2 linked regions of the Homo sapiens genome follow. The protein of the gene in region 1 purifies or fractionates together with the protein of each later gene. This does not show direct contact. Each region holds a gene or a part of one and is shown in the gene's direction. Other genes may lie near its edges. The genes, in order: MEFV and SPICE1.

Evidence for each region.
Region 2: the proteins of MEFV (region 1) and SPICE1 purify together in Homo sapiens (affinity purification with mass spectrometry; one large-scale study listed by BioGRID and IntAct). This does not show direct contact.

Annotation. Positions count from the first base shown.
Region 1 is NC_000016.10:3,241,198-3,244,080, reverse strand, and holds the end of MEFV (pyrin), read left to right. Parts: intron 1-13; coding exon of another isoform or gene 14-188; coding exon 189-221; intron 222-386; coding exon 387-940; 3' UTR 941-2,054; downstream 2,055-2,883. UniProt on the Homo sapiens protein: Involved in the regulation of innate immunity and the inflammatory response in response to IFNG/IFN-gamma.
Region 2 is NC_000003.12:113,462,955-113,466,783, reverse strand, and holds part of SPICE1 (spindle and centriole-associated protein 1), read left to right. Parts: intron 1-999; coding exon 1,000-1,131; intron 1,132-3,829.

The DNA of each region.
Region 1 (2,883 bases):
GTTGACTCATTAGACCACAGTCCCCAACATGGCCTGGGTTCCTGGGAGGAACGGGATTATACCCAACATAGCATGCAGGGCCCTAAGCAGGGGGTTCCTTGTCTTTCCTTGTTGTCAGGACAGTGTAATTTAGCCCCTCTTAATGCTAATGCTCAGGATTTTTTTCCCTATCTGATTTTTCTCCGTAGTTCCGGAGCTGATTGGCGCTCAGGCACATGCTGGTAAGTGCCCAGATCAAGGCAAGTGGCCCTGGCCTGCTGGATCCCTGTGCTCTCCCCTACCACGTTCCAGAAGAACTACCCTGTCCCTGTTTCCTGCAGGTGGGGAGAACCCTGTAGGGATGTTGCCCATGGACCCCTACCTAGGTATTCAAATTTTCTTTGCAGTTAATGTGATTCTGGATGCAGAAACCGCTTACCCCAACCTCATCTTCTCTGATGATCTGAAGAGTGTTAGACTTGGAAACAAGTGGGAGAGGCTGCCTGATGGCCCGCAAAGATTTGACAGCTGTATCATTGTTCTGGGCTCTCCGAGTTTCCTCTCTGGCCGCCGTTACTGGGAGGTGGAGGTTGGAGACAAGACAGCATGGATCCTGGGAGCCTGCAAGACATCCATAAGCAGGAAAGGGAACATGACTCTGTCGCCAGAGAATGGCTACTGGGTGGTGATAATGATGAAGGAAAATGAGTACCAGGCGTCCAGCGTTCCCCCGACCCGCCTGCTAATAAAGGAGCCTCCCAAGCGTGTGGGCATCTTCGTGGACTACAGAGTTGGAAGCATCTCCTTTTACAATGTGACAGCCAGATCCCACATCTATACATTCGCCAGCTGCTCTTTCTCTGGGCCCCTTCAACCTATCTTCAGCCCTGGGACACGTGATGGAGGGAAGAACACAGCTCCTCTGACTATCTGTCCAGTGGGTGGTCAGGGGCCTGACTGAATGCCCAACACTGCATCTCTCTTCCTGCTTCTGGCCTTGTATCTTGCATTCACACTCAATAGTCACGGAATGCCGACTAGGTGCTAGCTGCTATGGGAAATGCAAAAATAACAAAATAGTTACTGTGCCCACGGAGCCTACCCGATTATAGCAGAGGTAAGTTAGGAACGAACATGTTAGTCAATCCGGGTGAAGACATGTACTGATGACACACCATGGATTTCAGAGGAGGAAGTACGGAGTCGTTGCATAATCCGCCCCTGGTGGGTGGCACTCTCAGGTGCTCCTGAACAGAAGATTTGGCCCTCATTTTCCCTCAGAACCCCACGGCAAGGATATATGTCCCCTTGTTCTCTCTGCTTCTGTCTTGAGGATATGGGAAGCCTAGAGAAACGCAAGCAGACTGGATTGGGATAGAAGTATTTGTGTACCTGGATTAATGAACTATGATTTTTTTTTTTTTTTTTTGAGACCAAATCTTGCTCTGTGGCCCAGGCTGGAGTGCAGTGGCACGATCTCAGCTCACTGCAACCTCCACCTCCCAGGTTCAAGCGATTCTCCTGCCTCAGCCTCCTGAGCAGCTGGGATTACAGGTGCGTGCCACCACACCAGGCTGGTTTTCTTGTATTTTTAGTAGAGACGGGGGTTTCACCATGTTAGCCAGGCTGGTCTCGAACTCCTGACCTCAGGTGATCCACCCGCCTCAGCCTCCCAAAGTGCTGGGATTACAGGCATGAGCCACTGTGCCCGGCCTATGATTCTTTTTTTTTTTTTTTTTTGAGACAAAGTTTTGCTCTTGTCACCCAGGCTGGAGTGCAGTGGTGCAATCTTGGCTCGCAACCTCCGCCTCCCAGGTTCAAGAGATTCTCCTGCCTCAGCCTCCGAAGTAGCTGGGATTACAGGCGCCCGCCACCATGCCCGGCTAATTTTTTGCATTTTTAGTAGACATGAGGTTTCATCATGTTGGCCAGGCCGGTCTCAAACTCCTGACCTCAGGTGATGCACCCACCTCAGCCTCCCAAAGTGCAGGGATTACAGGCATGAGCCACCATGCCGGGCCATGATTCTTAAGAGAATTGACTGGGCCTCATGAATAAAAAAATTAGAAAATCTGGTCATTTGCATTTGTCACTCAATCACTGTGGAATCCCATTTCCCGACTGCATTTCAGGAAGCAGATGGGACTACTGTATGGAAAAACATTTGGCATGTATTCCAAGTGTCAGATTATTCTGTCTTGGTTTGTATGGGAAAATCTGCGGGTTGTGGAATATTAGGTTCTACTTCACACACATCCCGTGCATTTGTCCTTCATTTAAAGAGATGTAAAGGGGCCGGGCATGGTGACTCACATCTGTAATCTCAGCATTTTGGGAGGCAAAGGCGGGTGGATCGCCTGAGCCCAGGGATTGAGACCAGCTGGGCAATGTGGCGAAAACCCGTCTCTACAAAAAATACAAAAATTAGCCATAGGGATGGGGGTGGGAGGATGGCTTGAGCGCAGGAGATCGAGGCTGCAGCAGTGAACTGAGACTGCACTACGGCAATCCAGCCTGGGCAACAGAGTGAGTCCCTGTCTCCAAAAAGTGGATGTAAGAAGAAAAAAATCAAATGAAGATTAAATTCCAAACTCCTATGCCAACTCCTCTGTCTTCACTACTAGAGTGTAGATTAGACTCAGATACTCCATGGCTATGATGAGAGCAGGTAAACTTGCTGGGCTTTCCTCCACGAGTTTTATTCTATAAGAGTAATCCACATCCCAGGACAGTTCACATGACCTACGGCTTAGCTGTTCCCTGCGGTGGGTCATGTCTTATTCCCGATTCTCCCTTGTTATAAGCTTTTCATGAATATCTTTGTGTATATTTTCCACCACCTCACCATATACATATTTTTTTCTCCTGTGTTATTCCTAAAATGGTTCCTGAATGTGAAATATC
Region 2 (3,829 bases), on another chromosome or scaffold:
GTGAGCCTCTGCACCTGACCCTAAAATTAACTTTTTAATGACAGATTCATTGTATTGTCAGACCTATTAAAACCTTAACATTCTTTCACCCTTAACTCAGGAATCTTCAGGAGTATACTTTTGGCTCTTGGAGAGTATTGCAGGCTTAGAAGCATGTACTTTTTTTTTTTTTTTTGAGACAGAGTCTCGCTCTGTTGCTAGGCTGGAGTGCAGTGGCATGATCTTGGCTCACTGCAACCTCTGCCTCCTGGGTTCAAGAGATTCTTCTGCCTCAGCCTCTTGAGTATCTGGGACTACAGGCGTGCACCACCACGCCCAGTTAATTTTCGTATTTTTAGTAGAGACGGGGTTTCATTCACCATGTTGGCCAGGATGGTCTCGATCTCTTGACCTTGTAATCTGCCTGCCTTGGCCTCCCAATGTGCTGGGATTACAGGTGTGAGCCACCACGCCCGACCAGAAGCGTGTACTTTTAAGCTAATCACTTGTTTTACAAAGTTAAACCATTTAAAGTTGTAGTCATTTACTTTAAATTATATTTTAACAAGCTTAATTTTTGAATTGGCAATATAGTCACATATTATGAAATTCAAAGATAACAGCAGATTGTACTAACTCTCATGACTAACTTCCAGCTAGCCTGTTTGCTTATTTATAGCCAACTATCATTCCAGATACCAGTGTATCTTTCTAGAGATGGTCAGTGTATATTCAAATAATATGTATATGTATATCCCTCTACTTTCTTTTTACAAAAAATGTAGTTACTTAATTTTATATAGCATTTAGTTCATTTTATTCTATTTAAAGAAGGGAAGAGGATAAAGAAGCACATTTTCTTTAATTAAATATAATAAACCTTTTAATAAAACTCTTCATCATTACTGTCACATAATATATGCTTCTTTGTAAATATCTTCTTTGCCAGCTTTGAGTGCAAACTTTTAGTTTTCAACATGTGATGCTATTGGTGGAAGTTTATTTGATATTTTTTTGTAGAGTGAGATCCAGCTACGTAAAGAAGTAGAGACAAGGCAACAACTGGAACAAGTATTAGGTGATCATCGAGAGCTCATTGATGCTCTGACAGCTGAAATTCTTCGTCTTAGAGAAGAAAACGCTGCTACACAGGTACTCAGATGAGATCCCAATTTTTATGTGTTCAGTGGTATAAAACATCTTTAAACATGTACTGGATTCTCTTAGAGTTGCTTTTGGTTTAACTGTATCGATGTGATTACTTATCAGTCATTTTTATCATCAGTGGCAGGTATTATTGAACATTTATTACATGGAAGTACTATAGTAGAAGCTTGGAAGTAGTATATGGACTGTCTTCCTGTCTTCAAGAGACTTACTATTTAGTGGGAAGACAGAGTCTACATTTAAATTATAACTACAAGTGTTACAGTAGTTAATCCAAAATGTGAAATGAGTGTTATGACAGCCACTTTTAATTTCAAAACAGCAGAAGGTAGCCTTTGAGGAGTCCTTTTGCAATTATATCAGAGCCATTTACAGTTGTTCACAGTATCTTCATATTTGTTACATAAAGTCCTCTTTGCTGCTTGACTAATTGCTCCTTTTCTTTTTTAAAAGACTTACACCATTCTCTTCTGGAAAACCTATTGCTTCCATGCTGCATTGAGCATTCTTCCTTTGTGAACTTTTTTTTTTTTTTTTGAGATGGTGTCTCACTCTGTCACCCAGGATGGAGTGCAGTGGCATGAGTTCATTGCAGCCTGGACCTCCTGGGCTCAAGTGATCCTCCCACCTTAGCCTCCCAAGTCGCTGGGACTACAGGTGCACACCACCATACCCAGCTAACTTTTTATGTTTTGTAGAGATGGGGTTTCACCATGTTGCCCAGGCTGGTCTCGAACTCCAGGGCTCAAGCTATTCGCCCGCCTTGGCCCTCGAAAGTGCTGGGATTACAGGCATGAGCCACTGCACCTTGCTTCTTTGTGCACTTCTGATACTGTCTGGATATTGGTATTATTGCATTTATCAAATTGTTTTATACTTATATGTGTACTTGTTACTGAGACTGTATGCTTCTTGAGTGTACACAGTCTATTTTATTCATCTTTTTTGTTCTCATATGATGGTTATTATTACTTTTATTTATCAGCCAGAAGAGACTAGACAAGTAATAGTTAGAAGATAAATTATGTTTGTGTTAATGGACATTAGATGTAGATGTATAATTTTTTAAAATTGATAATATAGGGCGAGGCGCAGTGGCTCACACCTTTAATCCCCACATTTTGGGTGCCAAGGTGGGAAGATCACTTGAGGCCAGGAGTTTGAGATCAGCCTGGGTAACAGAGTGAGACCTGTCTCTACAAAAAATAAAAATATTAGCTGGGCATGGTAGCATATGCCTGTAGTCCTAGCTGCTTGGGAGGCTGAGGCAGGAGGATCACTTGAGCCTAGGAGTTTGAGGCTGCAGTGAGCTATGATTTTGCCATTACACTCCACCCTAGGTGACAGAGTGAGACCCTGTCTCTAAAAAAAAAAAAAAAAACAACAAAAAACTGAAACCACACACAAATTTGATAATATAGTTCACATACCATTAAGTCCTCCACCCTTTTAAAATGTACAAATCAGTGTTTTTAGTATGTTTGAAGTTGTATGCCAGCACTGTTATCTAAATCCAGAACATTTTCCTCACTCCAGAGAGAAATCCTGTACCCTTTTTCTTTTTTTTTTTGAGACGGAGTCCCACTCTGTCCCCCAGGCTGGAGTGCAGTGGCATGATCTCAGCTCACTGCAAGCTCTGCCTCTCGTGTTCACGCCATTCTCCTGTCCTAGCCTCCTGAGTAGCTGGGACTACAGGCGCCTGCCACTACGCCTGGCTAATTGTTTGTATTTTTAGCAGAGATGAGGTTTCACCGTGTTAGCCAGGATGGTCTCGATCTCCTGACCTCGTGATCTGCCTGACTTGGCCTCCCAAAGTGTTGGGATTACAGGCATGAGCCACCGCGCCAGGCCATCCTGTACCCTTTAGAAGTCACTCTTCATTCTCTCTTCTTGCCAGCTCCTGGCAGTCACTAATCTACTTTTTGTGTTTGTGTATTTGCCTAATATAGATATTACATAGAAATGGAATAATGTAATATGTGCTTTTCTTTCACTTAGTATAATGTTTAAGGTTAATTTATGTTTAGCATGTATCAGTACTTCATTCCTTTGTATTGCCCAATAATATTCCATTGTATGGATATACCATATTTTATTTATCCTTTCATTAGTTAATGAACATTTGGGTTATTTTTACATTTTGTCTGTTATGAATAATGCTGCTATGAACATTCATATACATATTTTTGCAGAACATATGTTTAATTCTCCTGGGAAGATGTGCAGTTTTAAAATGTACTAATTTACTTAACAAATCTTTGTTGAACACCTGCTGTGGGCCTGGTACTGTTCTAGGTACAGGAAATAGAATAGTGAACAAAATATAGAAAACTTTGCCCTCATGGAGCTTACATTCTAAATAAATCCTAAAAACAAAAAGTTGAAGTATAGTAAGTTAGATGGTGATATGTACTTTGAAGAAAAATAAAGCACATAAAGGCACAGGAAATGCATAGGATGGGGTAGGATGCAGTTACAAATGAGATGGGCCATGCCTGTCTGAGGAAGTGACATTTGAGCCAAGACCTGGAAGAGGCGAGGAGTGAGCATGTGGGTAGCTGAGAGAAGAGCAGTCTGGGCAGAGGAAAAGCAAGTGCGAAGGTCTTGCGGTGGGAGTGTGACTGGTGAGCTTAGAGTCATCAAGGAGATCAGTGTGGCAAGAGTAGAGTATGAGGAAGAGGAA